3 separate regions of the Homo sapiens genome follow, and all the other regions are linked to region 3. Evidence: fine-mapped expression QTL. A gene starts in region 3. Each other region holds a variant in brackets. All regions are shown on one strand. Distances are between the middles of the regions. Region 1 overlaps PRICKLE3 (prickle planar cell polarity protein 3). Region 2 holds the start of CCDC120 (coiled-coil domain containing 120). Region 3 holds the start of WDR45 (WD repeat domain 45).

Region 1 (5,719 bases), 100 kb after region 3:
CAGGCTGGTCTCGAACTCCTGACCTCAAGTGATCCGCCTGCCTTGGCCTCCCAAAGTGCTGGGATTACAGGTGTGAGCCACCGCGCCCAGTCTACTGATCCACTTTTCTTTTTCCCTTTACAGGAAAATTCCTCAAAAAGTTATGAGCACTTGTGTTCACTCCACTTCCTGTCCTTCCAATCTCTCTTGAGCCTACTTGAGGCAGGCTTCCGCTCCCATCCCTCTTCCAAAGCTGTCAAGGTCATCCATGACTTCCCCATTGTTAAAATCATTGTTCAGGTCTCAGTCGTCATCAGACTTGATGATGGTAGCACTGCACCGAGCTGACCACTCTCTCTTCCTGGAAACACTTTCTTCCCTTGGCTTCCAGGACACCACACAGTCCAGGTTTTCCTTCCACCTTATTGGCTGCTCCTTCTTTGTCCCTGTTTTGGCTCCTCCTCAACTAGCTGACCCCTAAATGCAGGAGGATCCTAGGACTCAGCTCTTGGTCCTCTTGCCTCTGTCTACATTCAATTTCTTGGGAATTACATTCAACCTTATGGCTGTAAATATCATCTACTTGGCTGGCTAATGTGTCACCTCCAGCCTGTGACACATAATGACAAACACATACGTCCAGCTCTGTAACTTATCCCTTGAGTTCCAGGCAATGTGGCTATTTAGATGTCTAACAGGCATCTCAAACTCCAGATGGCCACAACCAAACTTATGCTCTTACCCCTCAAACTGCTCCTGTCTTGGCCTCTCCCACATCAGTTAATCTACCTATCCTCAGGGTCATCTTTCACTCCTCTTTCTCCCACCCCCACAAGCAAATCCTCTGAGTGCTACTTCCAAAATATAGGCTGGGTGCTGTGGATCACACCTGTAATCCCAGCACTTTAGGAGGCCCAGAGGGGAAGATAGCTTGAGCCCAGGAGTCCAAGACCACCCTGGGCAACATGGCAAAACCCCATCTCTACAAAAAATACAAAAATCATCCAGGCGTGATGATGCGTGCCTGTAGTCCCAGCTACTTGGGAGGCTGAGGTGGGAGGATCACTTGAGCTCAGGAAGTTGAGGCTGCAGTGAGCTGTGATTGAGCCACTGCACTCAAACCTGGGAGACAGAGTGAGACCCCCCCCCATATATATATATGTGTGTGTGTATATATATATATATATATACACGTATAATTATTATACGTATATTATTTACGTAAATTATATACGTAAAATAATTATTTTATATATATGTATATAGATGTATACATATGTGTATATATATGTGTATATATACGTATATATGTGTATATATATACGTATATGTGTATATATATACACGTATATATACGTATATATATACGCGTGTATCTATATACGTATATATATATGTGTATATATATATACACACACATATATATATATTAAATAATTATTTATTAAACGGAATTTTGCTCTTGTTGCCCAGGCTGCAGTGCAATGGCATGATCTGGGCTCACCGAAACCTCCGCCTCCCGGGTTCAAGCGCTTCTCCTGCTTCAGCCTTCCAAGTAGCTGGGATTACAGGCATGTGCCACCACGCCTGGCTAATTTTTTTGTATTTTTAGTAGAGACGGGGTTTCTCCATGTTGGTCAGGCTGGTCTCAAACTCCCGACCTCAGGCGATCTGCCTGCCTAGGCTTCCCAAAGTGGTGGGATTACAGGCGTGAACCACTGCACCCAGCCTATTTTTTTTTTTTTTGAGACAGGGTCTTGCTCTGTCGCCCAGGCTGGAGTGCAGTGGTGCAATCTCAGCTCACTGCAACCTCTGCCTCCTGGGTTCAAGGAATTCTTGTGGCTCAGCCTCCCGAGTAGCTGGGATTACAGACATTTGCCACCATGCCAGACTAATTTTTGTATTTTTAGTAGAGATGGGGTTTCACTATGTTGGCCAGGCTGGTCTCAAACTCCTGACCTCAAGTGATCCACTCGCCTCGGCCTCCCAAAGTGCTGGGATTACAGGTGTGAGCCACCATGCCGGCCTTTCTGTCTGTCTGTCTGTCTCTCTCTCCATATATATATAACTCCTTGCACTGCCAGTGCCATCATCATCAGGTTCCTCACTGGTCTCCTGATTCCACCCTTATTCCTCCAGGCTGTCTTCTGCTGACAACCCTCTTGCGACTTCCCTTCATTCACAGGCAAAGCCAAAGTCCTCTCCATAGCCCCTGCCACATCTCTGACCTCATCTCCAGCTGGTCTCCCCCTTGCTCACTCTGCGCCAGCAGCACTGGCCTTGCCATCCCTTACATATGCCAAGCACACGCCTGCCTCAGGGCCTTGGCATTAGCCATGCCCTTTGCCTGTGTGAATCGCTGTAACCTTAGATGTCTGCATGGCTCACTTCTCACCTCCTTTCGGGCAGCTCAACCATTAAATTCTCACAGAGGCTTATTCTGGGCACCCTATTTACAATTCTAGCATCTCTCTCCTTCCCTCTCTCTTTCTTCACCCCACCTTCCTTGCTTTTTAATTCCATAGCCCTTACACCATCTGACATATATTTACAGGTTTGCTTATTGGGTGTTCCTCCTTTCCAGAATCTACCCTCTGCCTGGGCAGATTTTTTTTTTTTTTTTTTTGAGAAGTATCACTCTGTTGCCCAGGCTGGAGTGCAGTGGCACGATCTCAGCTCACTGCAACCTCCGCTTCCTGGGTTCAAACAATTCTCCTGCCTCAGCCTCCTGAGTAGCTAGGATTACAGGTGTGCACCACCACACCTGGCTAATTTTTGTACTTTTAGTAGAGACGGGGTTTTGCCATGTTGGCCAGGTTGGTCTCAAACTCCTGACCTCAAG[T/C]AATCCGCCCGCCTCAGCCTCCCGAAGTGCTGGGATTACAGGCGTGAGCCACCGTGCCCGTGGGCAGATATGTTATTTTGTGTTTTGCTCATTGCTGTGTCCTCAGTGCCTAGAACAGTGTCTCACATGCAGTAGGTGCCCCATAACTATGTGTTGAATGAGTCAATCAATGAAGTCATGTGGTGAATGAAGTGCTGGGAGGGTAGAATAGGGAGTGGGGCCACGCATGGTGGCTTGCTCTTGTAATCCCAGCACTTTGGGAGGCCGAGGCAGGATCACTTGAGCCCAGGAGTTCAACATCAGCCTGGGCAACATAGGGAGACCCTGTCTCTACAAAAAAATTTTAAAAATAGCCAGGCAGGGTGGCATGCACCTGCAGTCCCAGCTACAAGGGAGGCTGTGGTGGGCAACAGAGTGAGACCCTGTCTCAAAAACAATCAATCAAAAATAATAGGATTGGGGTGAACAGGCCCTGAGGAACTGGTCCCTCAGTCACCCAAGGTATGGGGGGCTGACCACTCTTCCATCACAGAGGGGCCAGAAGGACCCTCGGTCTGACTGCACACTCTAGCGTAGCCCCAGAAATAGGTTCCCACCTGAGTGTGTGTGTGTGTGTGTGAGCATTAGTGTGCACCCACTGGACAGCAAGAGTGGAGGGCTGGCCTCTGGTCACCTGCTCCGGCTTAAGGCCTGGGGGCACCCAGGCATACTCCTCCGATGCACAGCCTGAGTCGTCGTCGGAGATGGAGTGGCGCTGGAAGTCCGAGATTAGCCGACACATGATGCGTTCCAGGTCCACAGGCACCGCGTGCACTGCATGCTCCTCCCGCGGGCATTTGCAATGCTGGCAGATCTTTCTGAGGGGGCCGGGATGGGGGTCAATTACTAAGGAGTTGCCCACCCGAACCCCTCGGCAGCCCAGGTCCAATGGAGGAGCGGGGACATACAGATTATCACCACCAAAGGTCTGTGAGCAGGGACAGGGATCTGGGCCTGGGGGCAGGGCTGCAGGAGGTGGGCCTATGAGCCAGGGTGTGGCTGGGCTGTGAGCCAGAGGACAGGTCGTGGGGAGTGGGATGCTTTGTGGGGGAACTTTCACTAGACACAGGCATCTAACCTGTGGTGAGGCTCTGAACTTGTGGGCTCTGAGCCTGTGGGTAGGGCCTGAGTCTGGGGGCTGTAGGCTCTGTTTATTGGGTGCAGGGCTCCAGCAGGAGGATAGGACGCTGGGCCTGGGAGAGTAGGTCTGAGTCTAAGAGGGGTGCTGGAGGCCAGAGGGCGGCGCTCAGAGTTAGAGACGAAGAATCTCCCTAGGGATGCGACTCCGCGGCTACGGGAGAACACTTCTGGGGGCGGGGCTGCGTAGTGGGTGGAGCTCTCCTGGGAAAGGACTTTGGGGAATGAGTCAGGGGGCGGGGCTCTGAATCTGAGCCTGAGGCTCTTTTCCCAACTGAGATCCCTCTGTAGGCGGAGCTCAAGCGTAGGGGCGTGGCGTAAGGCTCCTGGATTTCCCCCCGAAGGCGGAGCTCTGACAAAGGCGAGGCCCTTTAGGGGCGCCACTTACCTCCAGCCGTGGAGCAGGAAGCCAGGGCACTGCTCCCTACAGGAGTTGCAGGGCTGGCCCCGGTCTGGGTCCTCTGCCTCTGGAGGCTGCAGTGGGCGGGGGCAGATGCAGGGCCGGGTGAGGCGCGGAAGCAGGGAAGGAGAAGTCAACGCCCGCCCCTCCACTTCATTGCCCGCGACCGCACGCTGGGGCCTGTCTTACCTGGGCAGCGCTGGGCAGGCTGGGACAGCGCCCAGAGTGCGGGGGAGCGGGACACAACCGAGGCAGAGGCGGGGCAGTTGGAGCCACCTCCTTATATGTCCCCTTTTCAGGGAATTCCCCTTCCTAGGCTGGCCTCGGACCCCCCTCCCCGTCCGCCCCTAGCCTCAGACACCTCCCACCAGCCTTAGATCCTTCCAGGGCTCAAGCACCTCCCCTATAATTCATTGTACTCTCCCCACTAGAGCACAGAACCCCTACTCTGGGCATCCTCTCCCCGGCCTCATCCCGGTTCCCTCTCCATCTACGCCGCCAGCAGCACTCCAGTTCCACAGGGTAGGAGACGAGACCGCATTCTTCCTTGAGATCCCCACGTGAACCCTGCCCCTCTCTTCAGAAGCTCAGGAGCTCCTCCCCTAAACCCTGGCCTCATGCCCTGATACCCAAGGAACTGGGGACCCTCCCCAGGATCTCAGGAGGCCCCTGCTCCATTCAGAAACCCCCATCCCAAGAAACCTTGGCCTTTACCCATCCCATCCTAGGGCTATTTATTCCTTCTCCGGACCATCAAACCCAGACCCCACATTCCCAGGTCAGAGACCCACTCCAAAGGAAGTGAAAGAACCTCCTATCTAAGAAGTCAAAAACTCCCTTGCTCAGGCGGAACCCTGGAAGCCTTGTCCCCCCAAATCCCAGTCTCTTGACTCTCAGCATTTCGGCATCCCAGGAGTGTAGGACTCCATCCCTCCGTGCACATTCCTCCAAGGTACTGTGTCCTTTAGAAGCTGAGGAGGTCGGCCAGGCTCGGTGGCTCACGCCTATAATCCCAGCACTTTGGGAGGCCGAGGTGGGCGGATCACCTGAGGTCAGGAGTTCGAGACCAGCCTGGCCAACATGGTGAAACCTTGTCTCTACTAAAAATACAAAAATTAGGCGGGCGCGGTGGCGGGCGTCTGTAATCCCAGGTACATGGGAGGCTGAAGCAGGAGAATCGCTTGAACCCAGGAGGCGGAGGTTGCAGTGAGCGGAGATAGCGCCACTGCACTCCAGCCTGGGTGACAGAGATTCAGTCTCAAAAAAAAAAAAAAAAAAAAAAAGCAGCAGCTCAGGAGGTTCCTGCTCAACCTAAGGCTTCA
Region 2 (5,719 bases), 22 kb before region 3:
TAAGCAATAAAAATCTTGGTGCTAAGTCCACTCCACCTCTGTGGGGCTTGTCTTGGGGGAGAAGGCCAGGCAGTCACTGGATTTAAGAATCAGGCCTATCCAGTGGTAACAGTAACAACAATAATGCAGTGTTCCCCTCATTGTCCGAATCTCCTTGATTCTGAGGATGATGGGGAGAACTTGGATAGCTAGAGGGTAATGTGTTACTCAATTGGGTTTTGTTCCTGCATTTCTCATAGAGACTAGTGAGTTTGAATAACAAGATGCCAGACCTATCTTATCCTGAAAATCTATCCAAACCTATTGATAACAAAACAAGCATTCCTCACTTTCCCAATCTATTTGGTACCTGAATTCTGAGAGGGAGAGTGCCCGAAGTTCAGACAGTGAAACCTACCAAGTTATTTGAAGGTATTTTGTTTTCACATCTTACATAGTGAGTAGGGAAAATTGAGATAATGAAGAATAATGACTAACTAAAAAATGTATCCAAATCTATGAACTTTCCTGAGCTCCAGGGACAAGAGTTGGGATAGTGAGGGTACCCTGTTATGTAAATGGTTCCTGCATTTTGTTTGGAGGGTAAGGAAAGTTCAAGAATGAGGGATACCAGTCGTATCTCAAAAATGTTTCTGAATCCATTCAGTTCTTGCATTTGGATGGTGAGAGTTCAGACAATTTCTCTGAATGTATTTGGTTCCTGCATTTTTGATGTTGAGAAAGGAGAGGTTGGATCATGAGGGAAACAGCTCTGTTTCAAATATGTCTCATTTGGTGAGCAGGGAGGGTACCGTGTCTAGATAGCAAGTGGGATTTGGAAGCTGAGGGATACCAGTTCTGTCTCAAAAATGCATCTGAGGCCGGGCGCGGTGGCTCACGCCTGTAATCCCAGCACTTTGGGAGGCTGAGGCGGGTGGATCACGAGGTCAGGAGTTCGAGCCCACCCTGGCCAAGATGGTGAAACCCCGTCTCTACTAAAAATACAAAAATTAGCTGGGTGTGGTGGCACGCACCTGTAATCCCAGCTACTCGGGAGGCTGAAGCAGGGAACTGCTTGAACCCGGGTGGTGGAGGTTGCAGTGAGCCGAGATCATGCCACTGCACTCCAGCCTGGGTGACAGGGTGAGACTCCGTCTCAAAAAAAAAAAAAAAAAAAAAAAATTGCGTCTGAATACATTTAGTCTCTGATTTTGGATAGCAAGAGTTCAGACAAGTTATCTGAGGAAAAACAACTGTTTCAAATGTATCAAGTGAGACTGAAGGACACCAGCTCTGTCTGGAAAAAATGTGTCTGAATGTATCTACTTGATTCCTGACTTCCTGTGGGGAAGAATACTTGTAACTGTGACAGCCAACATACACTGAGCTCTTACCAGGCACTGTTCTGCACAAGCTTTAAATGTATTAACTGATTTAATGCTCACAATAGCCCCGTGAGGTACATACTGTTATCATCGTCCCCAATTGACAGAGAGGCACAGAGAGGTTAAGTGACTTGTTCAAGCAGTCACACAGCTAGTAAGTGGCAGAGCTGGGTTGAATCCCAGACTCACCATTTACTAGTGACAGCAGGGTCACGTGAGGCCCAGGGCCCAGCTGGGGTAGGGCTTAGAGGTTGGGTCCTCTTCGAGGCTATTAAAAGTCATGGACCAGGGCAATGATGTGTGTTAGTGACTGCCCCATTTGTCTGCCTGGCCCAGGAGGTCCAGTTACCTGCTCTCCCCCAGTTACCCCCACAACAGCCCACCTCTGTGTGAGTGTATTAATTGTTGTTAGTAAGAGTCATTAATGACATGGTGTGTTTCCTTGCACTTTGAAATGCCTTTCAAAGTTATTTGGGGCCTCCATTGTCTCTGTAACCACCTTTTACCCATTTTACAGATGAGGAGACCTAAGCTTTGAGACTCAATCTACATTGCCAGCCAGATTCTCATCCCTCTTGGCTCTGATTTTATTACTGTCTCACTTCCCAACATCTTTGGTGGCCCATAAGAGGTGGGAGAGGCTGTGGCCGAGAGGACACTCCCCAATGCCCACCTTACCACTGCCCGCCCCAGGCAGTGAAGTGGGGAGGGCGATGAAAGGGGCCTTTGTGTTCCATGCTGGAAATCTCACACCCAGGAAGAAAGGTGGGCAGGGATGGCGGGAGGCCTTAATAGTATGAGTCTGGGGCATTGCTGATTCAGAGTGAGCTCCTCTCTAGGCTCAGCCCATCTGCAGCTTTTCTCACTTCAGGTCATGGTGTGGGCTGCTGCAGGGGTCTGGGTAGGGCTTGGGCCCTGGGTCACAGAGCAGATGGTCCTGAATGGAGCACAGGATGTGTGCTGTGTGCCGGGACTGGCCCAGAGCTCAGGTGGTAGTGGTGATGGTGGTGGTGGTGATGGTGGTGGTGGTGGGCGGGGTGAGGGGAGGCAGGGACAGTACGTCGTAAGGACTCAAAGCTCTCA[T/C]TTCCTTCTCTGGCATGAAGCCTGACTCTCTGAAGAAGAGAGACCCAGCATGGATGTGAAGAAGCATGAGCCCCCTTCCCTACTTCTCCTTCCCACTTGCAGGAGTAGCCTCTGTCTGCCTCCCAGCCAGGACCCAGCCCCCGGAAATTCTGATTTCACCTGCTCTTCTGCCACTGTGATCTGAATCAGGCCTCTTCACCTTTCCAGGCCTCAGCTTCTGCATCTATAAAATGGCTGTGAGGAGGCTGGGTCTGTGCCATCCTGCTACATTTGTAGGAACCAAGAGGGATCAAAACCCATAAGTGTTTTGTAGGGTGTAAGTTGTGCTTGATTTATTGAGATTATTTCTTCTGGAGCCACAGAAGGATCTTGAGACCTGACCTCTCCTTAGAAAGGTTGACTTCCTCTGTCCCCAACTTGGGAAACTATTATTCCCCAGTGAGGGTGGGAATTGCCCCAAGGCCTTCTACCACTGCCTTGCCCTGGGAGGAAAGGGTAGGGGCCTCAGAATGTGATGCTTAGTGCCAAGACACAAAAACTCAGTTTACACCCGAAGCCTCCCATGTACTTTACAGCTCCCCACACCTCTATGGCCCAGATCCAAGTTGCCCCTTGGGTGGGCAGCGTCTAATCCTCTGGGAATTTGGGCAGTAGGAGAGGCAGCTGCTACTCCCACCACTCTCAGCCCTTCTTCCCAGTTTTCTGCTAAGTGTACGGGGTGAGGAGGCACAGGCCTCCATGCCTGGCCAGTTTTAAAAAAAATTTTTGTAGAGATGGGGGTCTCATTATGTTGCACAGTCTGGCCTTGAACTCTTGGCTTCAAGCAATCCTCCCACCTCAGCCTCCCAAAGTGCTGAGATTACAGGCACCAGCTACCCTGCCTGGCCCAGGCTGTCTTCTTAGACATGCTGAGCACCCTGAGTGGACCTGGCCCTGAAACTGCCCCCAGGGGTGACCCTAGTCCTGGTGGCAGACAGGCAAGGGTTAAAAGGTGTGGGCCGGCCCAGTTCCTGGCCAGGTAGGCTGGGCCATTACCTAGTGGGAGGTGGCCAAGGCATCTGCCACTGCTGCTGACTGCCACTACCAGCCGGAGCCAGGGCCTGGTCGAGACAACTATTTTTGAGGTATCTGAGGCTACCCCACAGCACTCTCTGGCATTGGTGAGCACCTGGGAGCAGTGGGCCCAGGGTGCGAGGGGGATAAGGGCATTGGGGAGCTGGGGCAGGGTGTACTGAAGTTCCCTTCGGTAGAGAGCTAGGTCTGTGGGAGAGGCACACCAACAATGCAGGGCAGGGTGGTGGTGGGGGGGTAGGGGGGCAGTGAGAATGGAGGGCCTGAGGACAGGGGCAAAGCCCAAAACACCAATTTCCTTTCCTGGCACCAAGCCGATTCCCGGCCGGAAATGGACGAGGAGGGATCGGGGAAAAGAGAAGTATGAGTCCCCCCTTCTCCACCCTATCCCTGCTTCCTTTCCTCCCCGCCAGGAGTAGCCTCTGTCCTCCCCCAACCCAGGGCCCAGCTCTCCAAGAAAGACCAGACTGGGCTACTAAGAAACCATTACTCAGGCACCTGCCTGCCTATGCCTGATTTGTTCACTGCAGTGGAGGAAGCAGGGGCTCTGGGGAGGGTAATGGCCCAGACATTGAGATTTTGTATTTGCTCTAATAGTGGCAGGATGTGGAAATGACCCCCCAACTGTTGGGGTGCCACCCAGGTGAGGTATCTTGGTTGTAAACAGTTATTACAGCCAGGAATTTCTTTCTCGGCTGTGGTGTCAGAATGGCAGACCTGAAAAACCTGCCGGGCCCGCCTCTGGGTGTGGGGGGTGCCCTCTACTGCTCTCCCGCTGCAGCTGGTCCCTGGGACAGGATGGGGGCCATGGGGTCACTGGTAGGGGGAGACCTGGGGTTGGTGTGGGGGTGTGCTGGGGAGGGGTTTGCTGGGATCCCTTTCTCGCCATCTGGGCGGGGATGAGGCAGCTCCAGGCCCCAAGGCAAGTATGCAGAGGGCAGGTGAGCGGAGGCAGAAGCTTAGGAACTGGGTGTGGGGGTGTGGGGCGTTGACTGTGTCTAGCCTGCCCAGTGACCCCATGACTCATACTCTAACTATGTCCCCCCGAGGTCGGGCTGATAGGGAGGAGTTGGGGTTCCTGTGTGGACCCTGTCTGGACTTCCAGGACGCTCTGAGAAATTAGAGAAGAAAGGATTGGCTGGGTGCAGTGCCTCACGCATGTAATCCCAGCACTTTGGGAGGCCGAGGCGGGTGGATCACCTGAGGTCAGGAGTTCGAGACCAGCCTGGCCAACATGGTGAAACCCAATTTCTACTAAAAATACAAAAGTAGCCAGGCATGGTGGCGTGCACCTGTAATCCCAGCTACTTTGGAGGCTGAAGTGGGAGAATTGCTTGAACCTGGGAAGTGGAGGCTGCAGTGAGCCAAGATCGTGCCACCACTGCATTCCAGCCTAAGTGACAGAGCCAGGCCCTATCTCCAAAAAAAAAAAAAAAAAAAAAAAAAAAAGAATCGAAGCAGCCCAGCATGGAATTGGGATTGGATTGGGACCAATGCTGGCAAGGGGGACCGTGGATGGAGTTGGGTTCCTGTGGGGGTAAAGGAAGGTTCCAGGGAACCCTGTGAGAGTTCCTTGGGCCTAAATGGGGGCTGGGAAAGTTGGAGCCCCAGTGATCTGGGATGTGGAGGAACCCCTGCCATGCTGGGAAGTGTCAGACCTTAGATGAGTGGGGATGTGGGGCCTGGGTTTGTCAAAAGGCTTTAGGGACTGATCCCCACCCCTGCTGTTGAAGGCAGGGCACCACTGCTTCAAGAGAGGGGTACAGGCCCTATGGGGCAGGCAGGAGGACTGCAGAGAAACATGACACCTTACAAGCAGCTTGGCCTCACCCCACAATACACAGATGGGGAAGGGGCTTGAACCCATGCCTCCTTGGTTGGCTGGGTCTTCCTCACACCAGGCTAACATGTCATGACAAGCTGCCGACTTCAAGGTAGGTGATAATGGAGCTCTGTGGCCCCATAAAGCCCTCCCAGTCACCTGCCACCTAGGTTAGGCCAGGTGGTGGGAGGTGATGTCACTCAGCTGCCCAGCTGGGGACTGAGCATGATGTGGAAGGAAGGGAGCAAACTCCAGAGGAGGGGTGGCCAGCCAAGGCAGGTTCCATGGTCAGCTGAGCCATCGGGGGCAGAGAAGGAGGCAGGAGGCAGGTGGTTCGTTATTTGCAGCTGTGGACTTTGCTTCTCACAAATCCCAGCAG
Region 3 (5,613 bases):
TTTTAAAATGAAAACAAAGCACCAAGCTTCTCAAGCTATAAGATCCATGACTTCCAAGCTGTAGGCCTCCTCTCTGTGTGACTCTGAAGTACTCTGACGTCTTCATCTGCCAGTACCTTGGGGTGCCTGTGGGAGGCCAGGAATCCGAGAAATCTGGGCCAAAGGGCAGGATGAGGGCACTTACCTGAGATCTCTGAGAACTTGGGACTACTACCACCGCCCACCAAGGCCAGAAGGTTGGAGCGGTGCAGCATCTCCACCAAGCCCATGCTGCCCACCTGCTCGTGGTCTGGACAGGGACCAGGGTGTCAGTGGAGGTGGGAGCCAACGCCCAGCCCAGCTCTTCTGCCCATTGCCCCTCCCCTGCCAACAGCTCACCCAGATGCCCCTTCTCCATCAAGGGCTCCACGTTGTAGATGCGCACACCTGTCTCCATGGCGCAGCAAAAGCAGCCTGGGGGATGGAAGGAATCCAGACTGCCTTAAAGAATGCCCAGGTAGGAAGCTGGGGGCCCATGGCCCACTTCTGACCCCTCTTTTCCTCGCTTCCTCCCACAAGGGTACAGGCCCAATCCTCTCTCACTTTGGTCTTGGTTGAAACGCAGGCTGGTCACTCCTCGAAGTGGCTGTTGAGTCATGGTGCAGGATTGTTCCTCTGCATACAAATGGGATAAAGATGAGAAGAGTCCTGGAATCTCCCCTCCAAGTTCTGCCTCACCTGATTTCCTCCTCCTACTCTGCTAACTACTGACTCTGGAGTGACTGCAAAAAAGATAAAAACAGGCCAGGCGTGGTGGCTTATGCCTGTAATCCCAGCACTTTGGGAGGCCAAGGCGGGTGGATCACCTGAGGTCAGGAGTTTGAGATCAGCCTGGCTAACATGGTGAAATCCCGTCTCTAATAAAAATACAAAAGTTAGCCGGGTGTGGTGGGGGGCACCTATAATCCCAGCTACTCAGGAGGCTGAGGCAGGAGAATTGCTTGAACCCGAGAGGCTGAGATGGCAGTGAGCCGAAATCGAGCCATTGCATTCCAGCCTGGGTGACAGAGCGAGACTCCGTCTCGGGGGGAAGAAAAAGATAAAAACAGAGAGTCCCAGGGTCTCTGCTCTAAGCTCCCAAGATCCCAAACAACATGGCCAGGAACCCTCCTTCTTTCAGGTTTGGCAAGCTCCAGGCCCACACTGACGTGGACCCCACACCTCCTCTTTACATGCTGGCCCTCACTGACTTGTCAGGAAGTAATGTGATAGGGGGTGCCCCCGTGATATCTCCTCCCCACCGCCAGCCAATCTTGATCCCAATGCCAGACATGGCCTGGAACCACTCCCAACCCATTTCTCATCTTCAAACCTGACCTAGCACCGGACTCTCTCAATAAATAGACAAAAGTGGGCTAGGAGATGCACTTCTTGTACCTCCCTGACTTGGCCCTGGGACTGCTATGCTTGGTCTGCCATCCCCAGGAACTCCTCTGCTCATACCCTTCTAACTGTACCCCAACCTATTTGACCACCCCAGAGTCCTCTCACACCTTTCCCCCTCAACCGGCTTCCCCAAACTCCTTCAGGATGCCTACCTTGGGATGACCCCTTCTCATGCCTTGGTAACTACCCTTCAGGGCCAGCCTAGACATTCCCTTAGATTGGCTTATGCCCTGGGGACTCTACCCTAGGATTCCCCCTAGCACTCTAAATTTTCCACCCCTGGGACATCTCCTTCCTTGTGTTCTGCTGTCCTTGACTACAACATAACCTGGCCTGGACCCAACCCCAGGAACCCCCCCCATCCTCCTAAGATTCCCCCTCTAGACCCCTATCCAAGACCCCGCCCCAGGGCACCCTTGCCTTCTAAGACCCTTGCCCAAAACAAACCACCCAAAACTCCTACCTAGGAGAACCTCAACCCCTAAGATGCCTGCGCAGTCCCCTACTAAGATTACTGCCATAGAGCCCCCAACTTCCCTTCAAATCCTCAACTCCCCAATAACTCTGGCCAGACATACTCCCTCCCCCATCCTCCAAGAGTCCAAATCTCCTTCCTTTCTTTCAGTTACACCCTCCACTGGAATGCCTCATGCTCTTTCTTTGGACAGCTCTGCCTTAGAGTTATTCTCTGGACAGCTCCAACTTTCAACACCCCTTTTTTGCACCTCCATTCCAAGACTCTGTCCGGGATGCCTCGCCCCTCTCCCAAGACCAGCCGCATGCTCCTTCCAACGCCAGCACCCACTCAAGACCTCTGCCTTAGACCCCTACTCGAAAGACTTCCAGCCTCCCCCAGACCCAACCAACCCTGGGATCGTGCTCCAGCTTCCTGCCGCCTTCACCGGCCTGACCTCCGCGTGTCCCTGACCCGGGCCCCAGCTGTCGGTGCCGCCCGCGGCCCGGTTTTCTGACCTCCCGGGCCTTGGAGCCCGGCTCGGGTGTTTACATCAGGCCCTACTTCCGGGGGAGGGAGCCTGTCGCAGGAAATGACTCACCCCAGCTGGAAAAAGGCGGCCACCGCCTTCCTCGCCTAGTTCCCGGGTCTTCGGAGCATCGCGAGTGACAGTGGGGTTCTCCGGGGAGGGCGCGGGGAGCGGAGGAAGGTTGGCTGGGGGACCGGAGGCGAAGGGGGTTCCTCAAGGCCGAGACTGTCTGAGGGAACCCGGAAGGGTGGGGAGAGAGAGCGTGCCTTGCCCCCAGCAAAGCGAAACCGGCCAAGCCCTCAGCCCCTTGGTCACCCACAATGGGGGAGTAAACCTTCCCTGCTAACAAGACGCGGACCTCCGCGGCGGCCGAGAGTAGCCGCCCCGGTTCGCAACACACAGTCCTCCCAGGCTTCCAGAGGGGCGGCGCTGGGGGTTACAGGCGGGGGCGGACCTGGAGACCTTGAAAGTGGAGAAACCTCCTTGGCTCCGGGAAGCCAAGGAACAGATTTCGCTTTCTTTCTCCCCACCCTGTCCCCCCAACCCCGCCAGCTCTGAGTTTTGTCTTTTGTGTTTTGTTTAGTTTTGTTTTCTGAGACAGAGTCTCGCTCTGTCTCCCAGGCTGGAGTGCAGTGGCGCGATCTCGGCTCACTGCAACCTCCGCCTCCCGGGTTCAAACGGTTATCCTGCCTCAGCCTCCGGAGTAGCTGGGACTGCAGGCGTGCGCCACCACGCCCATCTAATTTTTGTATTTTTAGTAGAGACGGGGTTTCACCATGTTGGTCAGGCTGGTCTCGAACTCTTGACCTCAGGTTATCCACCCACCTCGGCCTCCCAAAGTGCTGGGATTACAGGCTTAAGCTACCACGCCCGGCCTCTGCTTTTATTTTTACAAAATACAAAATAGCTTTTTGATAGTAAAAGGTATGAATGCTTTGGGTTAAAAAAAAAAAAAAAAAGAGGTCCTACCTATGATAAAGCTTTTAAAAAAAGGCCCCAAATTATATGCATACTGGAAGGAATTTTTTTTTTTTTTTTTTTTTTTGATTAACAGAGTTTGGCTCTTTTTGCCCAGGCTGGAGTGCAATTAGCGCGATCTTGGCTCACCACAACCTCCGCCTCCCGGGTTCAAGGGATTCTTCTGCCTCAGCCTCCCCAGCCTCCCAAGTAGCTGGGATTACAGGCATGTGCCACCACGCCCAGCTAATTTTGTATTTTTAGTAGAGACCGGGTTTCTCCCTGTTGATCAGTCTGGTCTTGAACTCCTGACCTCAGGTGATCCGCCTGCCTCGGCCCCCCAAAGTGTTGGGATTACAGGCGTGAGCCACTGCGCCCGGCTGGAAGGATTTTTAATTAAACTTTACATTAAGAAATAATAAATAGGCTGGGCGCGGTGGCTCACGCCTGTAATCCCAGCACTTTGGGAGGCCGAAGCAGGCAGATCATGAGGTCAGGAGTTCGAGATCAGCCTGGCCAGCATGGTGAAACCCCCTCTCTACTAAAAATACAAAAAGTTAGCCAGGCATGGTGGTGCGTGCCTGTAGTCCCAGCTACTCGGGAGGCTGAGGCAGGAGAATCACTTGAAGCCAGGAGGAGGAGGTTGCAGTGAGCAGAGATCGCACCACTGCACTCCAGCCTGGGTAATAGAGTGAGACTCTGTCTCGAAAAAAAAAAAAAAAGCCGGGCGTGGTGACACGCGCCTGTAATCCTAGCTACTGGGGAGGCTGAGGCAGGAGAACCACTTAAACCTAGGAGGCGGAGGTTGCAGCAAGCCCAGATCCTGCCATTGCACTCCAGCCTGGGAGACGAGCGAAATTCCCGTCTCAAAAAAAAAGGGCTGGGCATGGTGGTGCATGCCTGTAATCCCAGCAATTTGGGAGGCCGAGGCAGGTGGATTGCCTGAGCTCAGGGGTTTGAGACCACCCTGGGTAACACGGTGAAACCTCCTCTCTACTAAAATACAAAAAATTAGCCGGGCGTGGTGGCGGGCACCTGTAAGTCCCCTACTTGGGAGGCTGAGGCAGGAGAATCATTGGAACCCAGAAGGCAGAGGTTGCAGTGAGCCAAGATCGCGCCACTGCACTCCAGCCTGGGCAACAGAGGGAAACCCTGTCTCCAAAAAAAAAAAAAAAAAAAGAATATTCTTGAAAAAAAAGAAATATGCTTTTTGCAGTGGCAGTATCATAGCCAATGAGGTTTAGCCAAGGTGTGGATATTGCTAATTGGAAACTTCCCAATACCCCGCCCCGAAGACTTGCAATATAGTCGGCATTGGCAATTTTTGACAGTCTATGAAGACTGAATATTAAAGAAAAAATACAGAGAAATCTCATACTTTTAATACAATCAGGGTTTCACATTGATGAAATCCCCCCTTTACTTTTTTTGAAGTATTGTTTTGATGCTTCTGTTTTTTCATATATTAATATATAAGAACATCTTTTTAACTCATCCTTTTTAACTGGTTCATGATATTATGTAGCATTGTTCAGCCCTTCCCCAACTGATGGCTGCCTAGGTTGTTTCAGATACTGTGTCGTCAATTCCCATGTATATATTTACTTGTGAATTTTGGCCCTATATACTCCCCTTGGCATGATTCCATTACTGTGCTCCTCAACAAGGCCAATCATCTGGCTTTCTTCAGACTCCACTTCCTCATGTCCCAGACCATATTCAACTCAATTCAATTTGGTGTTTGTCACTCCTGTGTCTTTGGGACTGCTCTTAACCAGACCACTGATGAATAATAATCTTGCCAAACCAGCAATCACTTCTCTGCCCTCTCCTGTGACTTTCTAGTGAAACCCACAATTTCTTCCTCTCACTCTCTTGGTTTTTCTTTTTCTTTCTTTCTTTTTTTTTAAGATGGAGTCTCACTCTGTCACCTAGGCTGGACTGCAGTGGCACGATCTCGGCTCACTGCAACCTCTGCTTCCTGGGTTCAAGTGATTCTCCTGCCTTAGCCTCCTGAGTAACTGAGATTACAGGCATGCACCACCACGCCCAGCTAATTTTTTTTTTTTTTTTTGAGACGGAGTCTCGCTCTGTCATCCAAGCTGGAGTGCAGTGGGGCGATCTCGGTTAACTGCAACCTCCGCCTCCCGGGTTCAAGCGATTCTCCTGCCTCAGGCTCCCAAGTAGCTGGGATTATAGGCATGCACCACCACGCCCGGCTAATTTTTGTATTTTTAGTAGAGACGGG

What was found. PIP is the estimated chance that this variant, and not a neighbour inherited with it, causes the effect. A credible set is the group of variants that fine-mapping cannot tell apart.
Region 1: its variant is the best candidate, but not a certain one, in a credible set for the expression of WDR45 in esophagus muscle (GTEx, PIP 0.83).
Region 2: its variant is the best candidate, but not a certain one, in a credible set for the expression of WDR45 in blood mononuclear cells (TOPMed, PIP 0.55).

What each region holds. Positions count from the first base shown.
Region 1 is chrX:49,180,240-49,185,958 of GRCh38, forward strand. PRICKLE3 (prickle planar cell polarity protein 3) reads right to left here. Exons shown (of 9, transcript NM_006150.5): 2 at 4,386-4,471; 3 at 3,495-3,678. Among named protein-coding and RNA genes, the nearest start is that of PRICKLE3, 3.3 kb to the right of the region's middle. RefSeq lists a cis regulatory region at 4,033-4,533 and a silencer at 4,142-4,355. The variant T/C (reference allele first, on the strand shown) is at 2,822.
Region 2 is chrX:49,055,489-49,061,207 of GRCh38, forward strand. CCDC120 (coiled-coil domain containing 120) reads left to right here and starts at 3,511. Exons shown (of 11, transcript NM_001163321.4): 1 at 3,511-3,607. The variant T/C (reference allele first, on the strand shown) is at 2,448.
Region 3 is chrX:49,077,459-49,083,071 of GRCh38, forward strand. It overlaps WDR45 (WD repeat domain 45), which reads right to left and starts at 2,429. Exons shown (of 11, transcript NM_001029896.2): 1 at 2,293-2,429; 2 at 583-654; 3 at 379-453; 4 at 185-289. The coding sequence starts at 637. It also overlaps the pseudogene RNU4-52P. RefSeq lists enhancers at 1-930, 2,380-2,880, 2,592-2,886 and silencers at 2,592-2,886, 3,129-3,198.